Linked DNA regions of Homo sapiens. The protein of the gene in region 1 interacts with the protein of each later gene in a pairwise test. Each region holds a gene or a part of one and is shown in the gene's direction. Other genes may lie near its edges.

What was found. Proteins that work in one complex are often made in the same cells at the same time.
Region 2: the proteins of SLC30A4 (region 1) and TMEM163 interact in binary tests that used the Homo sapiens proteins (3 or more experiments, as listed by UniProt).

What each region holds. Positions count from the first base shown.
Region 1 is NC_000015.10:45,520,723-45,524,670, reverse strand, and holds the start of SLC30A4 (probable proton-coupled zinc antiporter SLC30A4), read left to right. Parts: upstream 1-1,915; 5' UTR 1,916-2,064; exon of another isoform or gene 2,065-2,202; 5' UTR 2,203-2,316; coding exon 2,317-2,707; intron 2,708-3,948. UniProt on the Homo sapiens protein: Probable proton-coupled zinc ion antiporter mediating zinc import from cytoplasm potentially into the endocytic compartment. Controls zinc deposition in milk.
Region 2 is NC_000002.12:134,467,401-134,471,000, reverse strand, and holds part of TMEM163 (transmembrane protein 163), read left to right. Parts: intron 1-3,600. UniProt on the Homo sapiens protein: Zinc ion transporter that mediates zinc efflux and plays a crucial role in intracellular zinc homeostasis. Binds the divalent cations Zn(2+), Ni(2+), and to a minor extent Cu(2+).

The sequences.
Region 1 (3,948 bases):
GTGATTCATGGGAGGTCAAAATATCAATATTAACAGGATTTTGGAAGAAGTGGATTCTAACCCTAATGGATGATTTTGAGGGATTCAAGACTTCAATGGAGGAAGTAACTGTAGATGTGGTGGAAATAGCAAGAGAACTAGAAGTGGAACCTGAAGATGTGACTGAATTGCTGCAATCTCATAAAATTTGAACAGATGAGGAGTTGCTTCTTATAGATAAGCAGAGAGAGTGGTTTCTTGAGATAGAATCTACTCCTTGTGAAGATGCTGTGAACACTGTTGAAATGGCAACAAAGGATTTGAATATTCCATAAACTTAGTTGATAAAGCAGAGGCAGGGTTTGAGAAAACTGGATTGACTCCAATTTTGAAAGGTCCACTGTGGGTAAAATATTATCAACCAGCATCACACGCCATCAAGAACTCTTTCATGAAAACAAGTCAATCAATATAGCAAATGTCATTGTTGTCTTATTTTAAGGAATTGCCACAGCCACCCCAACCTTCAGCAGCCACCATCCAGATCAGTCAGCAGCCATTAACAAGGAGCAAAGACCCTCCAACTAGCAAAGAATATGACTTGCTAAAGGCCTAGATGATTGATAGCTTTTTTTTTTTTTGAGACCGAGTTTTGCTCTTCTTGCCCAGGCTGGAGTGTAATGGCGTGATCTCGGCTCACCACAACCTTCGCCACCCGGGTTCAAGCGATTCTCCTGCCTCAGCCTCCCTAGTAGCTGGGATTACAGGCATGCGCCACCATGCCCAGCTAATTTTGTATTTTTAGTAGAGACAGGGTTTCTCCATTTTGGTCAGGCTGGTCTTGAACTCCCCATCTCAGGTGATCCGCCCGCCTCGGCTTCCCAAAGGGCCGGTATTACAGGCGTGAGCCACCACGCCCAGCTGATAGCATTTTTTTAGCAGTCATGTATTTTATTTACTTGTTTATTTTTAGAGACAAGGTCTCACTCTGTCGCCAGGCAGGGGTGCGGAGGCACAATCATAGCTCACTGTAATCTCGAACCTCTGGGCTCATGCGACCCTCCTTCCTCAGAGCAATTAACAAATGTATATATACTTTTTCCTTCCTCTCTCCCAATATTTTAAATTAAGGTATGCACATTGTTTTAGACATAACGCTATTACACGCTTAATAGACTACATTATAAACATGATTGTATTTGCACTGGGACATGAAACATTTGTGAGACCTCACTTTGTCATATTGCGGTGGTCTGGAACCAAATTCGCAGTATCTCCAAGGTATGCCTGTACTAGATTTTCTATGCTTGAGTTTAGTCCATATCGTAAATACCTTGGAGGCAAAAGGAACACGGCAGAGAGCACAAAGAGGACAATACATATTTGCTGAAAAACAGTAGGACACAGAACTGCTGACGACGACAGCCTTGCCCTCTCCAGTTGACTGCAGCAAATGTTGCCAATTTGCCAGAGACAAGCAATTCGAGGAGAGAAAAGCTGCTTGCCTTTTCAGTTAGCAAGAAAAGTGCTGGGTTTGTCTTCTGCCGAGCACCCGCAACCCAGATCCCGACCCGAGATTCCTGAGACACACTTTCGGTGGAGGGAACTCCTAGCAGCAACGCCCAGCCCCCGGCGTGACCCTCCGACCGCACTTGCCTCCCAGCCTGGGAAGGTGGAAGAGGCCGCCCAAAGTCCCCTCAGTTGGCCAGTGAGTGACCCCTGGGCGGAGGCGGCGCAGTGGCCCCCAATCCAGCCTCGGGGCGAGAGGCGGGGCGCGCCGCGCGCCCCCGCCCATCGCGGGCGCCCCAGCCCTGCGCGCCAGGCCTGCGTGTCCTCGCGCCGACCCCTCCCTCGCGCGCCTCGCCCGGCGCACGCGCGTGGCCTCGCGCAGGGCGGGGAGAGGCGGTGGCTGTGGGCGTCCGGCCCCGAACCTGTCAGACCTGGGGAGCCGGCCTCCAGCAGCGGGCGCGGCGGGCGCGAGCACGACCCCACTCTCCTGCGGCCGCGGGTGGAGCAGCGCGAGCCCGCCTCGCTGAGCCGGCCGGGGGCGGGGAGATGAGTTGCGGCCCCGCGGCAGCGCCCCAGGTATTAAATAGATGTGCCGCCCCCTCGCGGAGCCCCGGCGGAGCGTCGGGGTCGGCCCTGCGACCCGCCGCCAGCGGCTTCGGAACTTGAGGACAGGGTTGGGCGCCTTTAATTTATAACGTGTTTCGTTTTCCACAGGATGGGGAGGGACGCGCGGCACTGCCCTCGAGAACTGGCGCTCCGGTGAAGTAGGCGCCGCCGGCCGTCCGCCTCCCCCAAGCCGTTCCGCACCGCGGCCGCTCAGCCTCTGCCATGGCCGGCTCTGGCGCGTGGAAGCGCCTCAAATCTATGCTAAGGAAGGATGATGCGCCGCTGTTTTTAAATGACACCAGCGCCTTTGACTTCTCGGATGAGGCGGGGGACGAGGGGCTTTCTCGGTTCAACAAACTTCGAGTTGTGGTGGCCGATGACGGTTCCGAAGCCCCGGAAAGGCCTGTTAACGGGGCGCACCCGACCCTCCAGGCCGACGATGATTCCTTACTGGACCAAGACTTACCTTTGACCAACAGTCAGCTGAGTTTGAAGGTGGACTCCTGTGACAACTGCAGCAAACAGAGAGAGATACTGAAGCAGAGAAAGGTGAAAGCCAGGTTGACCATTGCTGCCGTTCTGTACTTGCTTTTCATGATTGGAGAACTTGTAGGTGAGTTGTGTTGCCAACTCACTTTCCGTTTACCTTTCCTCGAGAGTCTTTGTCAAGCTGTAGTTACACAGGCTTTGAGGTTTAACCCATCTTTTCAGGAAGTTTGTATTTATCAAGACACTGATCTCATGTGAAAAGGCCACACGGTTCCAAAGTGCAGCTCAATCTAAGTACAATATAAACTCCCCGAGATAACTTTGACTTTCTCTTCTAGTTGTTCAACCACTGTCATCTACCGTAAAGTTAAGGACGTTATCTTCATTGTATGTCATGTAACTTCCTCTTTTTACAAAGGTCTGGTAAAATACCAGGTTAATTTTCGCAACGTTTAAAATAGTAAATGATCGTAAATAACTTAAGATCATAGAATTTTACAGTATGAAGGGACCTTACTGAACACCTGCTCCACCTCCTTTTTTTTTTTACATGTAAGGATTTCCAGGGCACAAACCAGTGGAATAAGTCGTGAGGGCCACTTAGGGAGTTAATGGAAGAGCCACATCTACAGTCCCAGCATTTTTTTCCTCTACATTTGACCTAAGTGGTTTCTTTTATACGATTTCCTTTTGTATTTATAGCCAAGAGATTTGCAAAATTAATTACCAACTAACATGAAATTTTTGCCTCGTAAGAAGGGCCTGAAATGAACCAGAGGACTCCGCCAAAGTTCTATGAGCCTGGTTTTCTTGTTCATTTTTTAATTATACGAACAATCCGTTCTCAATATAAGATACATTCTTAGTTTAGAGGTTATTTTCAATCACGTCAGTATAACTACTAACTTCTCAGTGACAGTTTACAAAGTGACATAAAAGCAGGGAGATGATTCTTACATGTCATCTCTTAAATGATGAACCATGACAAAAACAGGTGGCAGTCCAGATTTAAGATGTTTGACTGGAGGGTTCTATGTGGGAAAAATTATATACATTTCCTACCTTCTTTCATAACACTCCTCCCCAGGGCTCGCTTCAGCCATGCTGGTCTTCTTTTTCCTCTTACAACTCACAAAGCTCTTTTTGCCTCTAAGGCGTTCAAAGTGGCTGGTCCTTCTATCTCAGTGGCTTTCAAACATTTTTTGACCTCACTGTAGTAAGAAATACACTTCACATTGTGACTCATTTAGGCATGCATGCATACATATGTATGAGAATATACACAGGTCACATGTGTATAAATATATGTATAACTGAAACAAAAGTTTTCCTTCATGTGATGTATCCTAATAGTTTCTTCAATTG
Region 2 (3,600 bases), on another chromosome or scaffold:
CAGGTCTCGCTATGTTGCCCAGGCTGGTGTTGAACTCTTGGCTTCAAGTGTTCTTCCCGCCTCGGCCTCTCAAAGCACTGGGATTCCAGGCATGAGCCACCATGCCCAGCCAGGTACTGATGTCTTGAGCAGGCTGCTGACTGCATCTCTGTGACATTCTGTTCATGCCAACAGTCAACATGGCAGCCGTGTGGAGAGAGGAGCACGTGCACCGCAGGAGAGCCATCTGGGCCTGGGTAGGGTAATCACAGAGCTTTCAGGACATTGAAAGCTGGTTTTGGGAGAGGAGCTTTGGCAGGTCTGTGCCAGCCTGGATCCTCCTTGGGTTCCTCCGCAGGGTTCATCTGTTTCTGAGGCAGATCCACTCAGCAGTGGTGAGCTGCAGCCTGCAGCTTTGCGTGACACTCAGAGATGGCCCCAGACTCTGTTCCTCTACAGGGAAAGGTAATTGCTCTCTCAGAGCCAGTCCTAGGAGCAAAGGGTGGCTGGTAGAAATAACCCATGCTCAGAAAAAGCCTGCATTTTGCATCTTGGCTTCTCTACATTAAAAAACTTAGCTTCCCAATACTAATATAGCATTCACTCTGTGCCGGGCCCTGTTTGACCCCATGACACATCCGTATGAAGTTTTTTTTTTTTTTTTTGAGACGGAGTCTCACTCTGTCACCCAGGCTGGAGTGCAGTGGCGCTATCTCAGCTCACTGCAAGCTCCACCTCCCGGGTTCACACAATTCTCCTGCCTCAGCCTCCCGAGTAGCTAGGACTACAGGCGCCCGCCACCGCGCCCAGCTAATTTTTTGTATTTTTAGTAGAGACGAGGTTTCACTGTGTTAGTCAGGATGGTCTTGATCTCCTGACCTCGTGATCCGCCTGCCTCAGCCTCCCAAAGTGCTAGGATTACAGGCGTGAGCCACCGCGCCCAGCCTCGTATGAAGTTTTATGGTAGGGTTCAGGCAGGGAAGCAAACCCCTCTAAGTGATGCAGAATAGGGGTTTGTGGCAGGGGTGCGACTTTCCACATGGTGGTTGCTGGTGCCGACGTCCTGGTAAAGCGGTTGCCTCTGAGTGTGGTGTTGGTCTGAAGTCAGCAGCCGTGCAGTCAGGAAAGAAGGCTGGGCAAAGAGAAAGGCGCAAGGACAAACTGGCGCCCATGAAGATGGCCTGGACCTGTACGTGACCCTCACTGTCTCAGCCTCCATGACATTGGGCATCCTGCAGAAGAAGCTGGCGCCTTTGCCACAGAGCTATATGCACGCCTGGCTTATGACTCAGCGAAGCTGGAGCGGGGAGATGCAGCAGGAGCGGAGAATCCATGGGCTCGGTGCGGCCCCTCTCTCCCCTGGGCGAGCCCGTGGAGCCACAGAATGCAGAATGTGCCTGGCTGAGCTGCGGCAGCACCGGAGCCGCTTCACCTCCACCTTTCACTCATGCAGATGTCTCTGGGAGTCAGCTTCAACTGGGAACCACGTAGGAAGGAAATTCTGGGCAACGTAGTTCCAGTTGAGCTCTGTGCACGCAGTATATGCAGCCACCGTGAGGGAGTCTGTTATTTTTTTCCACTTTATAGGTAGGACAGTGGAGGGAGGGAGGGGTTAAGTGACCTGCCCAGAGTCACCTAGCTAGTAAGTGGGACTCCCGCTTCAGTGCTTTTGAAGCTGCCACCCAGTGCTTCTACTTTTTCGCTCCAGGAAGCCCACCCGAGTCCTCCAGGAGCTGGACCTCGGGGCCCTCCGGTCCATCGAGAGCTCCCCCGAGATGAAGCCTCCCAGGTACAGGAAACTTCCCGCACAGCCCCTGGATAGGCCGCGGTGGAGCTCAGTCCTGGTCTCTTGGAAGTTGAAGTTTCTTTATGTTTCACCATGCATACTTATTTCTCGGTGACAAGCTTCCTGTGTCTCTCTTACGAGAATGCTGACCAGGCTTGTCTGGGGCTCACCGTGAGCACCCGATGCGGCTGGCAGGTGGAGGACGTTTGTGTGTGGATCATGTGTTTGGGCCCCTTCACAACAACTCGTACCTTTTACTGCCAGCTGCTGCCAGGGGCTGTAGGCATCCCACTGCCGCTTACAGAGATCCAAGTGTTTGTTTCCCAGTAAGCCATGGAGTTTAGAGTTGAGCAAAGGCCTGCCTGGCACACGACTGCCACTGGGTCGGCCGAGCCCTGGGTCTGCAGCTCCCTTTAGGAGCTGGAGGAAGGGCCACCAAAGCCATGGGTGGCGTTTCTTGAGCTGCATCTCAGGGTGGGGCAGCACACCCCAGGCCCTGTGCCCTAGGGGCCTAGATGGGGTAAGCACAGATTTTCTCTACCGCTGGAAACTTAGGGAGGAGGGCTTTGCAAACAGCGACTGAATGGAGCCAAAGGGGATTCAGGCATCATGGGATAAGCAAAGTGAGTATTCAGTCTCCAAATCTGAGACCTCAAAGTTCTTGAATTTCCTGACTGCCTCAGTCTCCCAGCCTATGCTTCCTGAGTCCTGTTAGCACCTGGGGCTGTTGACATGCAATTCTTTGGTCATGTGTCTTAGTCAGTTCTAGCTGTTATAACAAAACACCACAGACTGGGTGGCTTATAAACCACAGACACTTCCATCTCACAGTTCTGGAGGCTGGGAGTCCAAGACAAGGTGCCAGCAGATTCAGTGCCTGGTGGGGCCCCTTTTCCTGGTTCATGAGATGGTGGCTTCTTCCTGTGTCCTCACATGCGGAGGGGGCAAGCTGGCACTATGGGACCTCTTTTATAAGGGCACTCATTCCATTAGTGAGGGCTCTGTCCTTGCAGCCTAATCACCTCCCAGAGGCCCCACCTCCTCATACCGTCACCCTGGCAATTAGGTTTCCATGTGTGAATTTTGGAGGGACACATACTCAGATTGTAGCATCATGTTCACCTTATTTTCTGTGGGTGCTGTCTCCTGGACTTAGGCTGAGTCCTGCACAAAGAGAGCTTCCATGTGGGGCTCCTGACCCCCTCCCACTGTGTCCCCTGCTGTGTAACCTCTGCATAGGAGGGACTGAAGAGTTGTCAAGAGGCCTGGTTTGGGACGGTCCTTACTGGTCATTTGAGGAGGTAAAACTTCCGTGAGGTGATTACTTTAAATAAGCTTTTAAATGTGAAATAATTTTAGATTAATAGAAGAGTTTTACAGATAGTACAGAGAGTGCCCATATCCCCTCCATCCAGCCTGACCTACTGTTAACATCGCACACAGCCACGGCAAATTAATCTCTACCATGAGATGACAGCACTATTCACGAAACCCTAGACTTTCTTCTCATGTCCCCGGTTTTCCCACTGATGACCTTTTTGTGTTCCAGGATCCAGTCTGGATGCCATGCTGCATTTACTTGTCACATCTCCTTAAGTCTCCAGTGTGTGACAGTCTCTCGGTCGTTCCTCATGTTTCATGACCTTGACACGTGAGGAGTCGGGTATTTTGTAGACGGTCCCTCCGTTTGGGTTTGTTTGATGTTGTTTCGCAGTTAAAATGAGGTTATGGATTTGGGGATGGAACACCGTGGAGGTAAAGTGCCCTTCTTGTCACATCGTATCAGGGGCCACATGTTACCAACACAACTTAATAATGGTGATGTGAACCTTGAT